Regions from separate parts of the Homo sapiens genome. Here regions 1, 3 and 4 are each linked to region 2. The links come from fine-mapping of genetic effects on gene expression. A gene starts in region 2. Each other region holds a variant in brackets. All regions are shown on one strand. Distances are between the middles of the regions. Region 1 overlaps STK4 (serine/threonine kinase 4). Region 2 holds the start of STK4 (serine/threonine kinase 4). Region 3 overlaps STK4 (serine/threonine kinase 4). Region 4 overlaps STK4 (serine/threonine kinase 4).

What was found. PIP is the estimated chance that this variant, and not a neighbour inherited with it, causes the effect. A credible set is the group of variants that fine-mapping cannot tell apart.
Region 1: its variant is the best candidate, but not a certain one, in a credible set for the expression of STK4 in blood mononuclear cells (TOPMed, PIP 0.67).
Region 3: its variant is the best candidate, but not a certain one, in a credible set for the expression of STK4 in fibroblasts (GTEx, PIP 0.78).
Region 4: its variant is the best candidate, but not a certain one, in a credible set for the expression of STK4 in whole blood (TOPMed, PIP 0.54).

The regions. Positions count from the first base shown.
Region 1 is chr20:45,073,595-45,078,744 of GRCh38, reverse strand. It overlaps STK4 (serine/threonine kinase 4), which reads right to left. Exons shown (of 11, transcript NM_006282.5): 11 at 1-3,727. The coding sequence ends at 3,569. Among named protein-coding and RNA genes, the nearest start is that of KCNS1, 25 kb to the left of the region's middle. The variant A/G (reference allele first, on the strand shown) is at 2,443.
Region 2 is chr20:44,963,889-44,969,038 of GRCh38, reverse strand. STK4 (serine/threonine kinase 4) reads right to left here and starts at 2,527. Exons shown (of 11, transcript NM_006282.5): 1 at 2,436-2,527. The coding sequence starts at 2,470. STK4-DT (STK4 divergent transcript) reads left to right here and starts at 2,581. Exons shown (of 3, transcript NR_038341.1): 1 at 2,581-2,922; 2 at 3,354-3,477; 3 at 3,591-5,150. RefSeq lists silencers at 643-772, 2,453-2,702 and an enhancer at 1,233-1,312.
Region 3 is chr20:45,017,670-45,022,819 of GRCh38, reverse strand. All of the region lies in intron 9 of STK4 (serine/threonine kinase 4), which reads right to left. Among named protein-coding and RNA genes, the nearest start is that of STK4, 54 kb to the right of the region's middle. The variant A/G (reference allele first, on the strand shown) is at 3,003.
Region 4 is chr20:45,051,369-45,056,518 of GRCh38, reverse strand. All of the region lies in intron 10 of STK4 (serine/threonine kinase 4), which reads right to left. Among named protein-coding and RNA genes, the nearest start is that of KCNS1, 47 kb to the left of the region's middle. RefSeq lists a silencer at 4,620-4,689. The variant G/A (reference allele first, on the strand shown) is at 1,996.

The DNA.
Region 1 (5,150 bases), 110 kb before region 2:
AGGCTACAATTCTTAAGTTGCTTCAGATGACTGGTTCTATCTATTTATCAATACATCCATCGATCCACTCATCCACTCATCCATGCATCCTCCTACCCTTCCTCTTCCCCGTCAAACATTCATCCATCCAATTGGTGGCTTGGGGAAAGGGACAAAAAGGGGAAAAAAAAAAAAAAAGGAAAGTGCTTCAAAATTACTGATGGAGCAATTAAAACAGTCTTAAAGAATTCTGAGATTTTTGGCCAGGCAAGGTGGCTCACGCCTGTAATCCCAGCACTTTGGGAGGCCGAGGCGGGTGGATCACAAGGTCAGGAGTTCAAGACCCACCTGGCTAATATGGTGAAACCCTGTCTCTACTAAAAATACAAAAATTAGCCGGGCGTGGTGGTGCAGCACCTGTAGTGGCAGCTACCTGGGAGGCTGAGGCAGGAGAATTGCTTGAACCTGGGAGGCGGAGGTTGCAGTGAGCCGAGATGGCGCCACTGCACTCCAGCCTGGGCAACAGAGTGAGACTCTGTCTCAAAAAAAAAAAAAAACACAAACAAAAAAAGAATTCTGAGATTTTTTTTTTTAAAGACAGAATCAGGTCATTGTTTCTTGAAGGCAGAGAACAAGCGAGGACCTCAAATTTCTCTGGAAGCTCGAGTTCCAAATGCTCAAGCAATAACAGAAGCCCAAGGCTCATTGAAAGCAAGCTGACATATCTTAAATTTAGTATTCAACAACAACAACAACAACTAGGACTTGTTCCTTTGCCTTTCTGTCACTAGAAAACAAATATACCTTGTCAGGAAATTTCTCTGATCCAAAACAAATTGACTTCTGGCCAAAAGGCTTCATCAAGCTAGACTGGTAAGCAATAGACTTTGTTGGATCAGCAAGCTGGGTGCACACATTCCTGAAACAAAACAAACTCCAGATCAAAGTTCATGACCCAAGAATAGTTATGGGGGAAAACTGAACTTTCTTTTATTTGGATCTAGCTTAGGAAGGGAGAAAATGGGCTTTCTCCTCCTCTCTGGCCAAGTGCAAAGTTCTTTGTTTAAAAAAGAAAGAGAGGCCAGGAGCGGTGGCTCATGCCTGTAATCCCAGCAGTGTGGGAGGCTGAGGCGGGTGGATCACCTGAGGTCAGGAGTTCAAGACCAGCCTGACTGACATGGTGAAACCCCGTCTCTACTACAAATACAAAAAAATAATCTGGGCATGGTGGCATATGCTGTAATCCCAGCAGAAGAATCGCTTGAACCCGGGAGGCGGAGGTTGCAGTGAGCCAAGATCGTGCCATTGTACTCCAGCCTGGGCGACAAGAGCGAAAATCCATCTCAAAGAATAAAAAGAAAAAAGAAAGAGAGAGAGAGACAGAACTATTAATTCGCACAGCAAATGGTGCAGGGGTGTGCATCCTGGATGCTTTGGTTTTTAAAACTTACTTGGCTATCAGACTTAACTACTAATTCAGCTGTCTTTCCAACCTAAAAATGCCAGTTCGAGTTATTTAGTCTATGCAAGAAAAGGTGGTCACTTCATTTTAAACAGGCTTGTGACTTTCCTTTTTTGTGTAAATATTGACCCCCTATAGTGATGCTATGAATCCTGATTCTATCATTTACTAGCTGCATGACCTTGGGAAGGAATCTTTCTCTCTGAACTTATTTCTTCAACTACAAAATGGAGATAAAGTAGTTAAGTCACAGGGTTATTGTGAAGTTTAGAGCCTACCCAGCTCAGTGCCTGATATATAATAGGTGCTCAACAAATGGTAGCTGTCATTTATTATTCCAGCAAGATCCTCAAATTGTCCTCTGTTTTCCGTATCCGCCACATAGCTATTTCAGTTGCCAAGCCCTGAAGACTAACAACTGCCTCTTGCATTTTTTAAAAACTTGCTTTAATTGCAAATAACAGAATCTGGCCACAGAAGAGGCACATTCCCTGCCTTTCCATTGATTCCCAGGTTTCAGGAGCAAAAGCAATTATGGAGTCAAATTACAGTATCCTGAGGTGCAACCCAGTCATGGCTCCCCATCTGAGGGAAAGAGGTAAAGTTGCAGGAAGATGGCTCTATGCTGTCTTTTGCAAAGCCCTCTGATCTGCTTCAGGCCCGAAACCTGCCTCCATGGGTGCTTGTCTGCTATATCTGGTAGATGTTGTGGAGCTCAAGGACTCGCTGAAACTGAATGATCTGGCTCGTCCAGGGAATCTCTTTACAGCCAGGTCATCTACTGAAGAGCCAAGGCAAGAGCAAGTTTCTGTTAGCAAGGTTCCCTGGAACAATTAACCAAGACTGACACAGGTCTCTTCCCCCAAAGAAGGGGCTGCATGGTTCGGTGGCCTGGGAGTGAGGACCCTGAATTCTAGTCTCAGCTCTTAACGCTAACTTGCTTTGTGATTTTGGCCATTCCCCTCTCTACACCTCAGTTTTGCGATCATCCGTACAAGAGG[A/G]TCAGATCAGATGATCTCTATAGTCCCTTCCAGCTCTGACATTCTGTGTGTTCAGATTGAGCCTCCTGGAAAACAAATCTTAGTCTAATATTCATTTATCCTTTCCAGGCTGCTTAGCAGTAAAAGAGAAAAGAAAACAGTCACATATTTGAACGTGGGTCACAAAAGCAATCCCCTCTACCCCTGTGTGTAAGGAATGTGGAGCAACATGCCACGTGTATGATTTTTACATGAACAATGAGAGCTTCAAAAACGCTTTTCCTTTGTGGACTGAACACAGTCCCGTGTTTGCTGAGAGTCCCTGGTAGAGATCATGTCTCCTCTTAAGGCACTGGGCAGTATCTGTGCTGTGACTTTAGGCAGTTGAGAGAGTGGAGATGGATGAAAGGCATTGAAAGAGCAAAGGCCAATTTGCAAAGAGGGTGCCAGGCTTCTCCTGGGACTCAAAGAGTAAACATAAACTCTCAAAGCTTTCCCTTGGACATCACCAATAGCTCCAGAAGCCAGTGATGACCACACAAGGCTGAAACCACGGTACAAGAACTGTCCCAAACCTAATTTTTAAATGCAGCCCTGCAAAGGGGGAGGTTGGCTCCTGGGATTCAGTGACCCCCTAACAGCCTCCCGGTGTCCTCTGCCCTCATGTTCCACAGTACCATAATCTTACAGAAAAGAGGCAAACCGTTTAAAACTGTACCTGTACAGAGATGCCACCACACTGCGTGGGGAATCTATTTATAATTTATATATATATATGCATATTTATATTTTTTTAAAAGTCTTCCAGAAAGAACAATTGAAAGCTATTGGGAGAAGAAAAACAGACAATGTAAAACTTTCCCAGCTATCACTCAACTAGGAGTCTCTGTTCCTGGGGTTTAAAACTCTGAGTTAAAAGCGCCAATATAAATCCTTTGAGATAATATACCTGACCAATGTACATACACACATCAAGATGGCACGCTGACTGTCAAGAGAGCCCTTCCCACTGGCGCACATTCCTGAGTTCACAAAGGTGCTGTGGAGAGACGACAGAGCAGAAGTGCTGGCTAACAAACATGAGGCAAGCCATCCAGAATTCACCCAAAGCCTGGGTGGAGCTGGGGCCCTCACAGCCTGGCCTTGCTCAGAAGTTTTGTTGCCGTCTCTTCTTAGCCTCTATGGCATCCAGGATGGGCTGCCGCTTGGACTGGTACTTCTGCCGGATCTCTTCAATCTCCTGCTCCATCATGGGGTCCAGGGCCAAGAGCCTCTTCTGAAGGTCCTCCACTGTCCAACTCTTAAGCTAGAAGAGAAGTGGAAGGTATAGTCACGACAAAGCTTAAGTCAGTGGCAGAACAGTGCAGAAGCCCAGCCTTCCCAGGCACCCAGAGGGAAGGGAGACAGGAGGAAGACACTGTGGTCAGATCACAGGTTGAGTGGTGGTGGTTGGAAAGTGACAATTCATTCCAAAGCATGGCATACCTTGAAGCTTGTCTGAGATAATTTATCCCTGGAAGAGATCTAAGTGCTAACCGCTTTGATTTAATGTGCCTTGACCAAGAACTTAGTGAATAATACTCTCACCTCCCCTATCTTTTAAGTTAATTAAATATAGATTCATTGTTAGGGCATTAAAATAACAGTAACTTGCTGTATGTGAAATAATGGTTGCCTCCCCGTTCTTGTTCTGTCTACGAGATAAGCGTCTATCTGGACAGCGCCTTTCCCACTTTCAGGATACGACACCATGGAGGATCGATGCTGATGAGGCGCAGATGCCATCCCCTAACCCTGCCTTCCCACACCCCCAATGTCTTGGCACTGCCCTATTATCATCACCAGCATTTACTTGAGGCTACTATATACCAGGTAACAGTCTAAGCCCCTTGGGAATACAGACGCAACCCTTGGCAGGGGTTGGGGTAAGGGTGGGTAGTTAGAAAAACCTCAAACTTCTGAGATTAAGTTTCTATCATCCAAAGAAAAACAATGAGTTGATATATAAATTAATAATAATGGCTGGCATTTAGTGTTTTCTATGCACCAGACACTGAGTGCTTTACATATATGGATTCCTTTAATCCTCAGAGCAACCCATGCTACAAGGACATTATTATCCCTATGTTACAGATGAACAGCCCAAGGAGGAGGGTAGCTAAGTAACCTGCCCAATGTCTCCCAACTAGTAAGTGGCAGAATCAAGACTCAAACCCAGGCAGCATGGCTCTAGAGTCTATGCTCTTAACCAGTGTTGCAGAACAGAAGACTAGCAAAGCACAGGTTTTAGAAGTAACTCAACCTTTGTTTAAAATGTGGTTCTGCCTGTTGCAGATGCCATGAGACTCTGTCAAGTTACCAATCTCTCCAGGCCTTCCCCATCTACAGAAGTCAGACAGCAGTGTCTCATCACATGTATTGTAAGAATTAAATAAGATCACGGCTGTAAAGTTCTCAGCACAGTACCTGCTGCACTGTGTGTGTAAAGATGGCAATGGGTGTTATAAGCCTCTCTCTTCATAAAAGCCCAGGGATACACCAGTGTTCAACCTGTGTCTGCAGCTATGGGGCAAGGGACTCTGCTGCCATGTGTGTTCAGTGATTCCAAGCCTGGCCAATATTGGCTGTCAGGGGTGGGAATGAATGCTGACATTATCCACAGTGGGTGGTGATACTTTATTCTGTGTGCTCACAACCAGTTTAATAGGTACAGTGTTTCAAGAACTCAA
Region 2 (5,150 bases):
AAGAACATGGAGACACAGGGAGATGGCCATCTACGAGTCAAGCAAAGGCGTCAAAAGAAACAACTCTGACAATGCCTTGATTTCAGATCTCTAGCCTTCAGAACAGTGAGAGAATAAATTTACGTTGCTTAAACCACCCACTCCATGACACTTTGTCTTGTCCTGATAAACTGATACACGTGATAATAAAATTGATCTGCTTCAAATTAGGCAATCTACTAGTTACAATGAGCTGGGAATCACCAGCCACTTCAGAACCCAGTCCTGCAATGCTCTTCTCTTGTGCTTTTAATACATTTTTTAAAATCCAAAAGGTACAGGAATGAGCATGCCAAGAAACTTTAGTCCTTTGCTCAAGATTATGTAAGACAAGGCAAAGGGGGAAACAAAACTCAGATTCCTAATCCTCTTTTCAATTAAACCAAGGCCTCGGAGAAAGAAACCAAGAAGAACGAACGAACATAGTTCAGAAAGAAACATAACTAGTGTGCATTCATAATTGGATCACTATGGTACTATAGTAAATATCTGCTAACATACACAGAGACCTGTGAAACAGGGGTACTTTTAGAGAGGCATCAGAGTGAGGCAGTTAAGAGCATGGCCGGGCCCGGTGGCTCACGCCTGTAATCCCACCACTTTGAGAAGCCAAGGTGGGCGGATCACGAGGTCAGGAGATAGAGACCATCCTGGCTAACACGGTGAAACCCCGTCTCTACTAAAACTACAAAAAATTAGCCAGGCGTGGTGGCACGCACCTGTGGTCCCAGTTACACAGGAGGCTGAGGCAGGAGAATCGCTTGAACCCAGAAGGCGGAAGTAGCAGTGAGCCGAGATTGCGCCACTGCACTTCAGACTGGGCGACAGAGTGAGACTCCGTCTCAAAAAAAAAAAAAGAACATGGACTTTGGACCAGACCCCATAGACATTAAAATCCTAGCTCTGTCTCTTACTTGCTATGACTTCTCCCAGCAAATCACTACCCTCTGTATCTCAGTTTTATCATCTGTAAAACAGACATATAGGGATATCTACCACACAGGATTGTTGTGAGGTTCAAATGAGTTCAAATGAGGTTTTTATGGTTCAAAAATGGTCAAATATCAGCAATTTCATATGCTTCAGCAGGACACATGGAAAGCACTTAGAACAGTGCCTGGCACCCGGTAAGTGCAATATGAGTGTAATAATCATTACTATTACAGTCTCAGCACACTACGCTAGGGTGAATCCAAAGCCCATCCCAACCACCTATTTGCCTTCTGCAATGTTTGTGCACCTCAAACATCCCCAAGCTCAAACAACCCCTAAGAGTGCTGCCCAGGCAGTCAATCCCTTCTCTTCACCTCTTGGTTGCCCTGCACTTCCACACCCTGAACACTTCCTTCTTTAGAGCTCATTCTGCTGCAGGAAGTCAGACGTCTCTGTGAAATAGAAGTAACCACACTGAACCTCAGAGAAGCATGACTCCTTCGGTCTCTAGTCCCTACTTTTCTCCAGATGTGGTAGAGTGGCAAAAGACCCGGGATGTCCACAAGGGAAATCCAGGAGTTGAGATTTTCTAGGATCAGCCACCATCCTGATCTTGAACTAAAGCAATTCCAGGTACCACTAGGATTTGGTGCTGATATTCACAAAACAACTGAGGCCTGAAAAGGGCACAGACTGGCAGGGTTCAGTGACCCGGAGTAAAGAAGGAAACACTTCCCAACTACTCTGGACCTCAGTCTCCCCATCTCGAAAATATCCTCTTATTTCCTTACCTACCTCCCAATGTCAGGTTCTGAAGAGCTGAGGAGGATGTGAAGACCATTAGGAAGACACTGAACATCAGTAATAAAAGATGCCATCCTACAGTGGGGACACCACCAACAGCATCCTCTGAAATGCTACCCTCCACCATCCCCTCCCTTGCTAGACCCTCAACCTTTCCTCGCATGCTTTCAGCCTTAGGCGCAAAGCTTTTCCCCTCCACAGATCCCCCCACCGCACCCCTCAAGTGGGACTTCAGACCCTTAGAAAGTCCACCCGGCCTTCCTCTTGGCCAGTTCTCGATCCACCCCCTTAAAGAGATCCCTCACAGATTCTCACCCTGCTTCAGCATTCGCCCCCACCTCCGTGAGTCCCTGCTTGGATAGCGTTCCCCCGAGTGGCCCGGCCTCAGCAGGTACTCTCCCTAACTTGTCCCCACGTTCCTCAGCACAGTCTCACCACAGCGAGTGCTCCCTCTAACCGGTCCCAAGTCTAACCTCCTTAGCAGATGCTCCCCTCAGCCGGACCCTCACCCACCAGACGTCCCCCCCCTCACTCAGCAGGTGCCCCATCGGCTGGGTCGCTTAGCTCCGGGGACTCCCACACAGGTGTATCCCCTCAACCAGTTCCCGCCTTTTCTTCCCCTGACCCCATGCCCGTCCTCTTAGCCAGTGGCCCCTCACCGGCGCGGCGGGTTCCTCAGCTGTACCGTCTCCATGGCGCTGCCAGCAGCCGCCCAGACCCGCTCACTGCTCCATCCTCCCGCGGACCTCCTGAGCCCGCCCCGCAGACCCTCCCACACTTCCGCTTTCCGCCCCTACCGGAAGCGGCGCGCGGCGCGGGAGCGGGGCGGAGCCACGGCCCTGATCACGTGGTTCGGGCGTGAGTCTTGTGGCGCGGTGGGGCGCGGACCCGGAACCGCCAAGTGGTGAAGGCGCCTCCAGGCGGTGCCCGCTGGTCTCTAGAGTGTCAGTGGCGCTGTCTTCCTGCGTTACCGGAGCGCACAAAATACTCGGTCCCCAGGCCGAGAACGCACCTCTACCTGGGTCCTGGGTCCCATTTCACAGACTGAGATGCGTGAAGCGCCTCCTTTAGAAGAGCTGACAATTCTTAGCAAACCAAGTTTTGCGTGATTTTGGGGAGGCGGCGCTGCCCCAGGAACGCCTGGAGGTATTTGTGGTTTTCTGCCGCTTACCTGGTTGAACTCTGGTCCCAACGGGCCCCCTGCACATTTTCTCCTACAATGCATCAACGCGCAAATTGCCCCACTGTCTTTCTTAAAGGCCTCCCCTTTAAGTCAGTTTGCAGACATAAAAATAAGCAACATTAATTAAGCATTTGCCGTGTACTTGTCTTCATATATTATCTCATTTAATCCCCTGTGTCAAGCCGATAAGGTCATCCCCGTTTTTATTTATTTAATGATTTAACACAGTCCCTAAACGTTTTCAGTGCTTTACCTCATTTAATACTCCTAACAACCTAGACGGTATTATTATTATTCCTACTTCATAAGGCCAGAGAGGTGAAGTATCTAGCCCAAGGTCACATAGCTTAGAGTATAGGTTTGGGGATTTAAATCCAGTTTGGTCTGATTTCAGGGCCTGCACCACCAAACTGGACAGCCATGGGTGTGTAACCTCTTTTTGGGCCTGAGAAACAGACCTTTCTCTCCACTCAGAGCTCCGGCTTCAGCTATTGTGCTTCCGAATGCCACTACCATCAGTAAGTATTAGGAAAATGGCAGATTCTACCCAATTGACCCATGGGGAAAGTTATAGGAGAAAACTTAACCAGAGCAACCTCTCACTGTTTTTAATTGCCTTGCTTTTCCCAAGGATATGCCATCTACAGAACTTAACACCTGAGCACCCACCCTTCAGGGCCACCCATGGGCCCAAAACGGGATAAAGGAGCCATTCCCTGACATAGGAGGAAAACATTTGCTGAGAAGCTACTGTGTGCCAGACACAATCTTGGACTTTCACTTAATCCTCAAAACAGCCCTAGGAAGAAGTACCTACCGTTAACAGATAAGAAAGCTGAGACCCACGGTTTACACAGCTAAGGAGAGCAAAGGTTTTAACCCAGGACTGTCCTGACTCCACAACATCAAAGTTGTTGTTTTGTTTTTGGTGTTTTGTAGAAACAGGATCTCCCTATTATTACCCAGGCTGGTCTCAAACTCCTGGGCTGCAGCAGTCCTCCCACCTCGGCCTCCCAGAGTGCTGGGATTACAGGCAAGAGCCACCACACCTGGCTGATGAATAGGAATTGGGTAAACATTTTTGAAAATTAAATACCAAATTACCATTACACAATGCCAAACAGACCTCCTTTGTCCCCTTCCCAGGATTTTTCCAGAAGATGGACTCACATTATGATGGCCCCCTTTTTCCGCAGAGTGTTCCCAATGAAAATTTCTGAAATGATGGGAATGTTCTAAATATGTGCTGTCCGAAATAGTAACCATTAGCCACATATGGCTATTGAGCACTTTAAATGTGGCTAGCATAACTGAAAGGCCACATTTTTATTTAAATTTAAATTTAAATAGCAAACCGTGGCTAATCATAATAATAGCTTAAGAGAGAAATGGTGAGCAGGGTTACTGGGAGAGGTATTTTCCTATAAGCTCTGGATATACAGTTGACCTGGGAACAACAAGGGTTTGAGCTGCATGGGTCCACCAATACAACCCTTGTTTTGTTTTGTTTTGTTTTCAATAAATACAGTCAGCCCTCTCTATCAGAGGGTTCCACATCCACAATGAAACATGGTTGGAAAATACAGTATGGGATGTGAAACCTGTGTATAGGGTGGGCTGACTTTTCGTTTCCATAGGTTCTGCAGGGTCAACTATAGTACATGAGTATACTCACATTTTAGTATCCTAATAGATCCTCAAACCAACACCTGGCAGAAAATGGGGAACAATTGCATAACAGTATTCAAGGGACTGGGTATGATGGCTTGCACCTGTAATCCCAGCACTTTTGGAGGCCAAGGCAGAACAGGAGTTCGAGACCAGCCTGGGCAATATGGTGAAACCCCTTTTCTACAAAAAACTTAGCCAAGCATGGCATATTTGTGTAATGCCATTTGCATGACCCACATGGTCACCCTGGACCCCGTGGATCAGGCCCTGCCTGGTGCCACCACCGCCACTTCTGTGCCAGGCCCCCAGTGTGATGCAAGTTGCATGATGCTCTTTGCTGTAGTGCCTTTTAATGGCATAGCTTTGGCAGGTTTGGAGATGTTCAGAATAGGCAAATCCTGTGGTGGATTTGTGGTTGTCTAAGGCCCTGGTGGAAGGGAGCATAGGTGAATTGGAGGGGATGATTAAAAGGTGTGAGATTTCATTTTGGGGTGATGAAAATGTTCTAAAATTGGTTGTA
Region 3 (5,150 bases), 54 kb before region 2:
TCTGGACAGAAATAACAGGTAATTTAAAACTTTTTCTCCAATGGAATTTACAAAAACCATAAGGGCGTCATTCTTTTTTAAAATGTATTATATCCAACAATAAAACAATATATTTCTATGGTTCTTCATTAATTACTTTCAGTTGCAATACAGGTGGACTTAAGAAATTGAATCTTTAAACCAAGGATGATGAAACACTAAAGATAACATTTCTGTGGTCTAATTCTAAACCATGTCATAAAAATCAAAGAAATGTCTGTTAAGTGAGAATATAATTATTTGTCTATTTCTGTCACTGTTCAGATGAAAAAGTGAGAACATCTGCTTGCCTCATATTTGAGTTCTTCTTTCTTACCAACCCACTTAAAAATTTCTAATTTTTGGAGTTAAAACACCAACTGTTCTTTGTCTCTTTCAACAATGAAAATCCACAAATAAGAAAGTCTATCTAAAATGTATTTGCTTTTACCTTCTGATATCAATACCAGGGACCTGATTATACCTGACATTTATTAGAATTCGAAGTTCCAAAAACTAAAGTGAAATAAAAAGAGAATTTTTTTTATCTAACCACATATTCAGATATAAGCTGTAAGTAAAATGCACATATGTATTAGAAATTTAATTATAGCAAAATGATTAGTTAAAATGTTACATTTATCAGATTGCCAAAAAGCTAAAGTTGATTTTGGAGACAGAAGAACGGAAAAATTCCTCTCCTCAAATTTTATGTTATGTATATTTTACCACAATAAAAAAAAATGGAAAGTAATCCCTATCCTGCAGTTCAAAGATTTAGATTCTGGTTCTGACTACACGATCTTGGTAAAACCACAGGTTCCCAATCTGCAAAAAGAAGACACAGGGCCAGATTATATCTAATGTTCCCTGCAGCTTTGAAAAATTCCGTGATTTTATGACTTGGCAGTAGCATATGAAAACATATTTATGCTCAGTTATTAATAACTATTCAAAAGAAGAAGTTCTTATCTCTAGTAGGATTATGATACTGGATGCCTCTCATCTAAAACATGCTACAACTAGATGTGTACAGGCATAAAGCAAAGACCAAAGTGAAAAATAGTTAAGACTCAAGAAATATTTTAGTGACAAGAGTATCTCTGATTCTTTGGATTTTTTGTTGTTGGTGGTTTAACAGATGGAAGAGGTAACTCAAACTGTAATAAAGATATCGTCTAGAGATGCAGATGAAATATTTTATGGAACTAAAGTGAAAAACTGAATGAACTGACTGATAGGGGAAGCCACCTTAACTGGCAAGAAACAGCAGACATTCAAAAACAATTAGCTGATCCTTGTATTTAGTGATTCCAGAAAATAAATGCCTCCACCATAATGATTCTTTCTTCATGTGTGAGAGTGCTTTACTGACATGTTAAGTTTATATGAAGAAGACAGCAGTATTCCTATTGTGAATAACACTGTCATTACATTGCAGCACCTGTACTAAGTCTGATTTTATAGACTGATAATAATTCTCAGTAAACAGATTTGCATTCCTATCACAATTAGTATCTAAGATAAATTGTTTTTAAAAATGGCCACAACAATTTCCTCTTGGTATCTTCATCCTTACCTTACTCCCTCTCACAATGACTCTGGGCCTGGCTATCTAACCTGCTTTGGGCATTGAGACAATAGCAAATGTACAGCAAGAAGAGACTTAAAAATTCTTGTGTAGGCTGGGCATGGTGGCTCATGCTTGTAATCCCACCACTTTGGAGGCCAAGGTGGGTAGACTGCTTGAGCCCAGGAGTTCGAGACCAGCCTGGGCAACATAGCAAGACCTGGTCTCTACAAATAATAATTTTTTAAAAAAATTAGCTGGGTGTGGTGGCACGCACCTGTGGTCTCAAATATTTGGGAGGCTGAGGCAGGAGGATCACCTGAGCCCAGGAGGTCAAGGCTGCAGTGAGCTATGATCGCACAACTGTACTCCAGCCTGGGTAACAGAGCAAGACCCTGTCTCAAAAAAAAAAAAAGTCTTGTATATTTTACTATAATATAAATAAACCTGATTGAGCCTGCTAGATGGTGAAATACTACGTGGAGAGGCCCAAGTCAACAAATGTCTCAACAAATAAATCAGCCATCCCCAGCTGTTATTGCACCAGCTGACCACAGAGCAGAGCTAACCAGCTCAGACCAGAATTGCCTGCCTACCTGAGTCCAACCTAACTGCCAACTTACAGAATCATGAATCAAGTTAAATAAAATGGCTATTTTAAACCACTAAATTTTAGGGTGGTTTACAATGCAGCAAAAGCTAACTGACACAGTTTCAGTATCTCTATCTCACATAAACATAAACATAAACATAAACATAAACATACACACACACACACACACACACACACACGCATAAACATACACCCCTAAATCTGGAAAAAAGAGTTCTATTCTTTGGAAACTTAGGTTCAAATTTAACTAACATTCACTAAATACCTTCTACATTTCAGGCTTTCTACTAGGTGCTTTCACATAATGGTCTCATCCAAACTGCACATCCAAACTGCATGACCACCATATAAAGTAGAGGGGGAAAAGCCTTACACTTAATAGGCATCTATCAAGTGCCAGAAAATGTACTATATCACTTAATCCTCAAAGAGTCTTTTGAGATATATGTTATTTATTATGCCCCTTTTACAAGTGAGAAATTTGCAGATTTCTAAGCTAGTAACCAACAAGGATGGGACTTGAATGCCAAATGTCAGGTTTTAAGTTTAGTGATCTACATCTCATATTGTACAGTCTCTAAAATCAAAATAAAGATTCTTGACATGTTAGAACTGCCATTAAACTAAGTGCAGAAAGAGTGGGGAAATGTAATTTTCCCAGTAACCTTATCTTTGAACTTTTCTTTCAGCACCCGTTAGCTAGATAGATGATCAAGTGTGCTGGACAGCAGCTTGTCAGGTTGAAAAGTGTAAGAGAATCATTCCAAGCTGATTAAAGGCCATGCTGTCCCCCAGGGCTTC[A/G]GCTAGCTTGTGGGTTTTTTGTTTTAACTTGAGCTAGCATATTTTTTCAGATGTATCCCAAGAAATAAAGATGTTCAGCTGAATGATAATACAAGAAACCTAAAGCCGTAGAAAGAATGGACTGAAGAGAGAAATCAAGCCTTGAAAATACCACATCTTGCTCTGATTCTTTTATCTGATGCCGGAAATGCATGAATTCCTATGCTAAGACTGGCCTATTTTTCTTTGTAAGCAGCATTTGTCAAGCTAAATGAACAATCTGTCTAAGCCTACAGACAAAGCAGTGAATTCATAAGCAACTGTATCTTCCATTTATTTTTCTTTGAAAAATGCTACGTAAAAGCAGAAGGAATCAACAACCCAAATGTCTATCAGCTGATGAACAGATAAACAAAATGCAGTGTATCCATACAGTGGAATATTATTCAGCAACAAAAAGAAATAGTGATACATGCTATAACATGGATAAACCTCAAAAACATTATGCAAAATGAAAGACGCCATTCTCAAAAGGCCACATGTTATATGATTCCATTTACATAAACTGTCCAAAACAGGCAAATCTATAGAGACAGAAAGTAGATTAATGGTTGCCTGGGGGTGAGAGGCAAATGAGAAGTGACTGCTAACAGGATTAGAGTTTTTTGAGGGGATGATAAAAATGTCTTGAATTCAATAGTGCTTAAAGTTGCAACACCTTGTTAATATCCTAAAAAAACACTGAATTCTATGCTTTAAAATGGCAAATTTTATGACATATAAATTATATCTCAATTTAAAAATAGTGGCCAGGCATGGTGGCTCATGCCTGTAATTCCAGCACTTCAGGTGGCCAAGGCAGGAGGATGGCTTGAGGCCACGAGTTCGAGACTAGCCTGAGCAACATAGTGAGACCCTGTCTCTACAAAAATTTTTTTTTTAAATTAGCTGGGCATAGTGGTGCACACCTGTAGTCCCAACTATTCAGGAGGCTAAGGCAGAAGGATCACTTGAGCCCAGTTCAAGACTGCAGTAAGCTATGCTCATGCCACTGCACTTCAGCCTGGGCAACAGACCAAGATCCTGTCTCCAAATTAAAAAAAAAAAAAAAAAGTAGAACTTTAAAAATTAGATAGAATTTTAAAAATTAGATTGTGGTGATGGTTGCACAACTCTGTGAATAAACTAAAAACCATTAAACTGTACACTTTAAATGAACAAATTGTATGGTGTGTAAATTATATGTCAGTAACTCAATTTTTTTTAAGCAGCAAGACACCTTTCCTTAACTATTTGCTCTTATTTCTGGATTCATATGAACTACAACATAATGTCTAGGTAGTCATAACTGGGAAGGACCTTGACCAAAGACTGAAGCCCACTGTTCCATTGGAATGACCATCTACTAGACCTTAAACTTCATGACCTTCAATTTCAAACCTTCATTTTCCAGACTGTCACTAAGTAAACCAATATGGTCAACCTACTGTTTCCTTAATTCCTACAATGACTCTTTTCTACTTAAATTGTAATTAATTCTGTGCAAACCAGAGAACTGGGCAGAGCCTGATTTTTTTTCTCTGTTTCATGCATGAATGTTTGCAGGAAAAACAACAACAACAACAACAACAACAACTCTGGTAATCCTGCAAATGTTTTCCTCTGGCTTGGAATAGTATGCCTTAATGTGCAATTCTTATCACAGGGTTTGTTTTTTTCTAACATTTGTTATGAGTGTGTGGTTTTGGGTTTTGTTTTTGTTACCAGGCACCTAAGTGCTTTACATGTATCAGCTCATTTAATTACACTGGTTACTATCCAAGTAGCTGTGTACAGCCATAAATATTCCTTTGAATGTCCTTTGAAACCACTAAGAATTGCTGGAATCATAAGTTATAAGGTTCCCTGGAGCCCAGAATAACTCTTCCAGTTAAGCAGTTTCAGTAACTGCCTCTATATGAATGGACTTAATTTCTGGGCAATGGTGCTCTAGCTGTTTTAATTCTGGTGAACTGAAATATATAAATTCAAAGAGAGCTAAATCCAAAATTCAAAGGATTACTAACTAGAGCAATAGTGGCAGCACATCTAAAAAGATAAAAAATGTTCACAGGTGAGAATGGTCCACATCTTGGTTCTTGCAAGAATTTCCTAATTGGTCTCACCTTT
Region 4 (5,150 bases), 87 kb before region 2:
TCATTTTCTCCCACTGAAAATAAAGTAGTAGTGAACAGATAAATTCTGGTAATATCCATACAATGGAAACTACTCAGCAATAAAAAGGAACAAACTCCAGACATATGCAACAAATGAACAAATCTCAGAACAGTATGCTAAGTGAATGAGGCCAAACACAAAAGGCTATATACTGCACAATTCCATTCATCTGACATCCCAGAAAAGACAAAACTTTAGGGACAAAAAACAGGGCATAAGGGAACTTGATGGGATATTAGAAATGTTCTATAGCTTGATTATGGTGGTATTTATACAACTGTATATTTCTATTAAAACTCATCCAACTGTACACTTAAAAGGAGCATGTTCTATAGCATATAAATTAAACCTCAACAAATCTGACTTTACAAAAATATTACATAGCAAAAAATTGTGGCAGGTAGTTGAAATAGTATTTAAAGGAAATTTTACAGCCTTAAATGTATGTTAGAAAAGAAAGATAATTGGGCCCGGCGCGGGGGCTCACGCTGGTAATCCCAACACTTTAAGAGGCCGAGGCAGGCAGATCATGAGGTCAGGAGTTCCAGACCAGCCTGGCCAACATGGTGAAACCCCGTCTCTCCTAAAAATACAAAAATTAGCCAGGCATGGTGGTGTGCACCTCTAGTCCCAGCTACTCGGGAGGCTGAGACAGGAGAATTGCTTGAACCTGGGAGGCAAAGATTGCAGTGAGCCAAGATCATGCCACTGCACTCCAGCCTGGGCAACAGTGCAAGACTCCGTCTCGGGGAAAAAGAAAACAAAAAAAAAAGAAAGAAAGAAAGAAAAAGAAAAGAAAGATAATTAAAAATTAGTAAGCTGAATTGTCCAAGTGAAGAAAAGAGAAATAAACCCATAGAAAGCAGAAAGAAGAAAATGATGTAAGAACATAAATTAATGAATTCAAAAGTTAATGTGCAGTAGCAAGGATCAACAAAACCAAAAGCTGGTTTGGGCTTAAAAAAAAAATTACACTTTGATAAGACTGATCCCCACCCCCCGGAAAAAAAAGAAGAAACAAATAACAGGAATGAAAAGCAAGCTATAAATACAGATACTGCAAATTTTAAAATCTGAAACTTGATGCCAATAAATTTTTAAATGTGCATGAAATTAAGATGTCTTGGGAAGCGGCAGAGACCTACATCTGGAGTGAAACCAAACAAAACTGACTACTAAGAAATCTAGACCACAAGGACAAAGTGGAATGAGTAGATTGTTAAAAACACATACTCAAATGACAGAGCCACAGAGGATGAAACCATCTCTGAAAATAGAGACAACCATGATATTTCTGAATATACGTGTTTTCCCTAAAGGCAGGAAAATGAGAAAAAATAAGTTAACGCCCAACCTCCAGTTCTGACAACACGGCAGAGTAACAAGGTCACTCCTGAAACCTCCCCATGTAAGAGAAGCAGGGATATCCAGGGGCCAGAGAAATTGTGTACATGCCCATCCCCACCCCTTCTTTTGATGCTTATATTGCTATTCTTGGTAAATCAGGTGAAAATGAATACCAAGGGTAGTCCTATGGAGAGAAGAAATCACAAGGACAGGTGGGAGAGAAGGTTAAGCTCTGCCTGTATTGCCTTAATGAGAGGGCAGATTCAGGGACCTTGTTGGACAGTGATTACAGGAATAGTAACAATAGCAATAATAAAAGCCAGAATTTTTTAAGCATTAACTGTTCATTATTAGCAGCCATACATTAAGTATTTTATATGTATTAATCTCATTTGCTCTTCATTAAATCTTACAGCTATAATTATTAACCCAGTGCTACAGATGGGGAATTTGAGGTTTGAAGAATTATATAATCCATTGAGGTTAACACAGCCCGCAAGTGGTTGAAATCAAAATTGAATCAGGTTCTGTCTGACTCTGGGGTCTGTACTTTTTCCTTTTTTTTTTTTTTTGAAAAAAAAAAAAAAAAAAGATAGGGTGTCCCACTGTTGCCCAGGCTAGAGTGCA[G/A]TGGTGCAATCATAGCTTACTGCAGCCTCAAACTCCGGGTTCAAGTGATCCTCCTGCCTCAGCCTCTTGAGTAGCAGGACTACAGGTGGGCACCACCATGCCTGGCTAATTTTTTAATTTTTTGTAGAGACAAGGTCTAGCTACATTGGTCAGGCTGGTCTCAAACTCCTGGGCTCGAGGGATCCTCCCGCTTTGGCCTCTCAAAGTGCTAGGATTACAGATGTGAGCCCCGCACCTGGCCAGGAGTCTGCACTTTTAATGAAATGTCACCCAACATCTACTACTATTGGCTAAGTGCTTTCACACTCATTTTCTCAGCTAAACAGAGAGAGAATGAAGCACGGACAGCAGTAAAGCCTATATGCGGGGCAGCATTAGCATACAGAGAACCCACGATTTAGTCACTTGCCTTGGTAACAATGAACTGGCAAATTTTCCTAAACCCAAGTTACCATAGTACTAAGTAGTTAGGGGAAAGAGATGGTGGCTTTCTCTATCTGCAAAACGGAAAATCCAGACAATCCCAACTAACTTTTGCTAAAGTTCCTGTGAGAAGTAATCAAAATTTCATGGATAGAGGTTCCCTGGGGACAAATTTTGGCTGAAAAAAAAAACAAAAAACAAAAAAAAACTACTATCTTTACACACAGCTTTGAGCAATGATTTGAACTACTTCCAACTTGTGGAATTCCCTCTTCTCAGAAATGACTGCAGGTAGTCAAGCAAATGTGAGATGATGCCTCTTGTTGGAAATATAGCAAGAGCTGGAAAATATGTCCTTTAAGACCCTTTTCAATTCTGAAAGTTTATCATTCTCTGATACAGTGTTGGAACAGATGATTGAGAGAGACAATGGCTTCTAGGAATTCAAGACATGCCCATCTGTCACCTGTGCTTACAGTGAAGCCACACAGAAGTTAACTATGGAACAGTCCTTCCTAGGGCCTAAGGTGCTAGGATACTTATTGCAGTTCTTAGGCTCCATTTCTGAGCCAGTCTGGACTCAGCTCTTTTTCTCACCATGTAGTTGAGATTAAAATTATCCTGTAGTTTAATATCAGAGAATAAATGGCCACAAGAATGAACGCTAAAGAAGAAGCCTGCCAAGCAGCCATGGATCAAGCAGTCTCCGAACCAAACAAAGGAAATGAAAAACAGTCTCAGGCTCACACAGGCTGATACTGTTTTAAGCAACCTCTTGAGGTCAAAAACCGCAGGCATTTAAGTCCTGCTCTCAAAGCCATTTCAATAACTGAGTTAAAAACCCAGCTCAAATCAGCTAGCACGATCCACCAGCAGAACCAGGCTACTGTGGTTCTGAGACAAAGATGACATTCATTTACCATGTGGTTTCTCAGAAAGCGTATCTACACAGCAGGTTTCCCTGGCAATTTTGGATACATATGTCTTTTCCAGACTGCTGTTCTTGGCTAGTTTTCTGAAAGAAAAGAGCACAAAATCTCATTATATTCCAAAGCACAAATAAATTCAGTCTCAACATACTTTAAACCAAGCTTTACAGGAAAAATAAGAAGTTGAAACAAAAATAGTGTACCCTGTCAAGAACAATTTAGGATAGTCTTCTCACCAGAAACTGCTCGACAGGACTACTTCAGTAAAAAGCCATTAACAGGCAGTGCTGTTGACCTTGGCTAGCTACTGGGCATTCACATGGCACTGCCGGGTCAGAAACCTAAACACCAAACATAGTCTCCATTCATCTTTCTTCTAGCACAGAAGAAAAGAAACTCATCAGAAAAAGTTTAAAAAGCAGAGCATGGAGATTGTCCAGAAAGGTGGTGGCAAGAGTCTGAGAGCGCAGGTGCTGATGGTTAAAACCCCAGCTTAATTCACACACTCAACAGGCAAAAAAATGCAACAATAAAAACAATCACAAAGACTCAATCCCCAAACCTCCTGTTGACAAGAAAAAAGCCTGGCTTAATATATTAGAACGACCTGAAAACAACCCAACTCCAACCAAAAAAGCCCCAAATGTTAAATGCCAAGTAAAAAGAGGATGATTAAATCAATCAAAAGAATGTAATGTGATGGGCTACTATGTGACCCTTAAAAATGATTTCACAAGTGTTTTTAATGATATGAGAAAATGTTTAAGATATGTTAAGTGAAAAAAAATCAAGATTTATTATGCATGCAGAATGATCTCAGCTGTGTAAAATAATATCTAAGTATTAAAAAACTGGAAGGAAATGTTAAAATGTAATTATTATTGCTGGGGGGGGTGGAAGAGTTGTAAGAGACATTTTCTTCTTTAAGCTTTTCTTCAGTCTCTAAACTTTCTATAATGAGTGTGTTTTTACAACTAGAAGGTTAACAAAATAGCATTGTAACATTATAGAAGAGCAAACCAACACCAAAAAAGAAGAAAATAATAACATTTATTAAGTGCTTATTGCAGGCCAGCAGTAAGGACCATTGTCCTAAAGGTGCTTTACGTGCATTACAGGTTTAGTATCCCTTATCCAAGATGCCTGGGACCAGAAGTGTTTTGGATTTTGGATTTTTGGATTTGGGATTACGCAACCTGCATCTCATTTGATACTCACGACAGCCCTATGAAAGAGGTATGACTTTACCATGTTTGACAGATAAGACAATCAAGGGTTAGACAGGTGGCATAATAGGTGGAGAAGATAGGCTATGAGCCCTAACAGAATAACTCCAGTGGTTTTAACCACTATATGCCTCTCAACCACAATGGCATAATCTGTCTCCCTGCCTGCAAGCCTGACCTAAACATAAGCCTCAATGACAAAATCTACTTTAGAAGGCACTATAATAATTTAGGATAGTGTGACTGCCAAGGTACTAAGATACTCAGATAAATATTCAAAAGAGGAACTAAAACACCTCTAATGAAGCTATAAAAAGAATCCATGTGATAGAGCAATGCATCGCTGCAGTTGAAAACATACCAGCACAACAAATCAACCCACAGCTAAATCCCACTATACAAGAGAAGCTAGTAATAACTGTCAAAGAAAGACCCCTGGTAACCACTTATTGAACTACCATGAAAAAAGGAACTCACTAAAAGATACAATAACAATGAGCTAGACAGTAAGGATTTGAATTTGTCTCCCAAAAAGCCCCCTAGCAACAAGAGGCCTGGACCATCAAAGGCTAGAGAA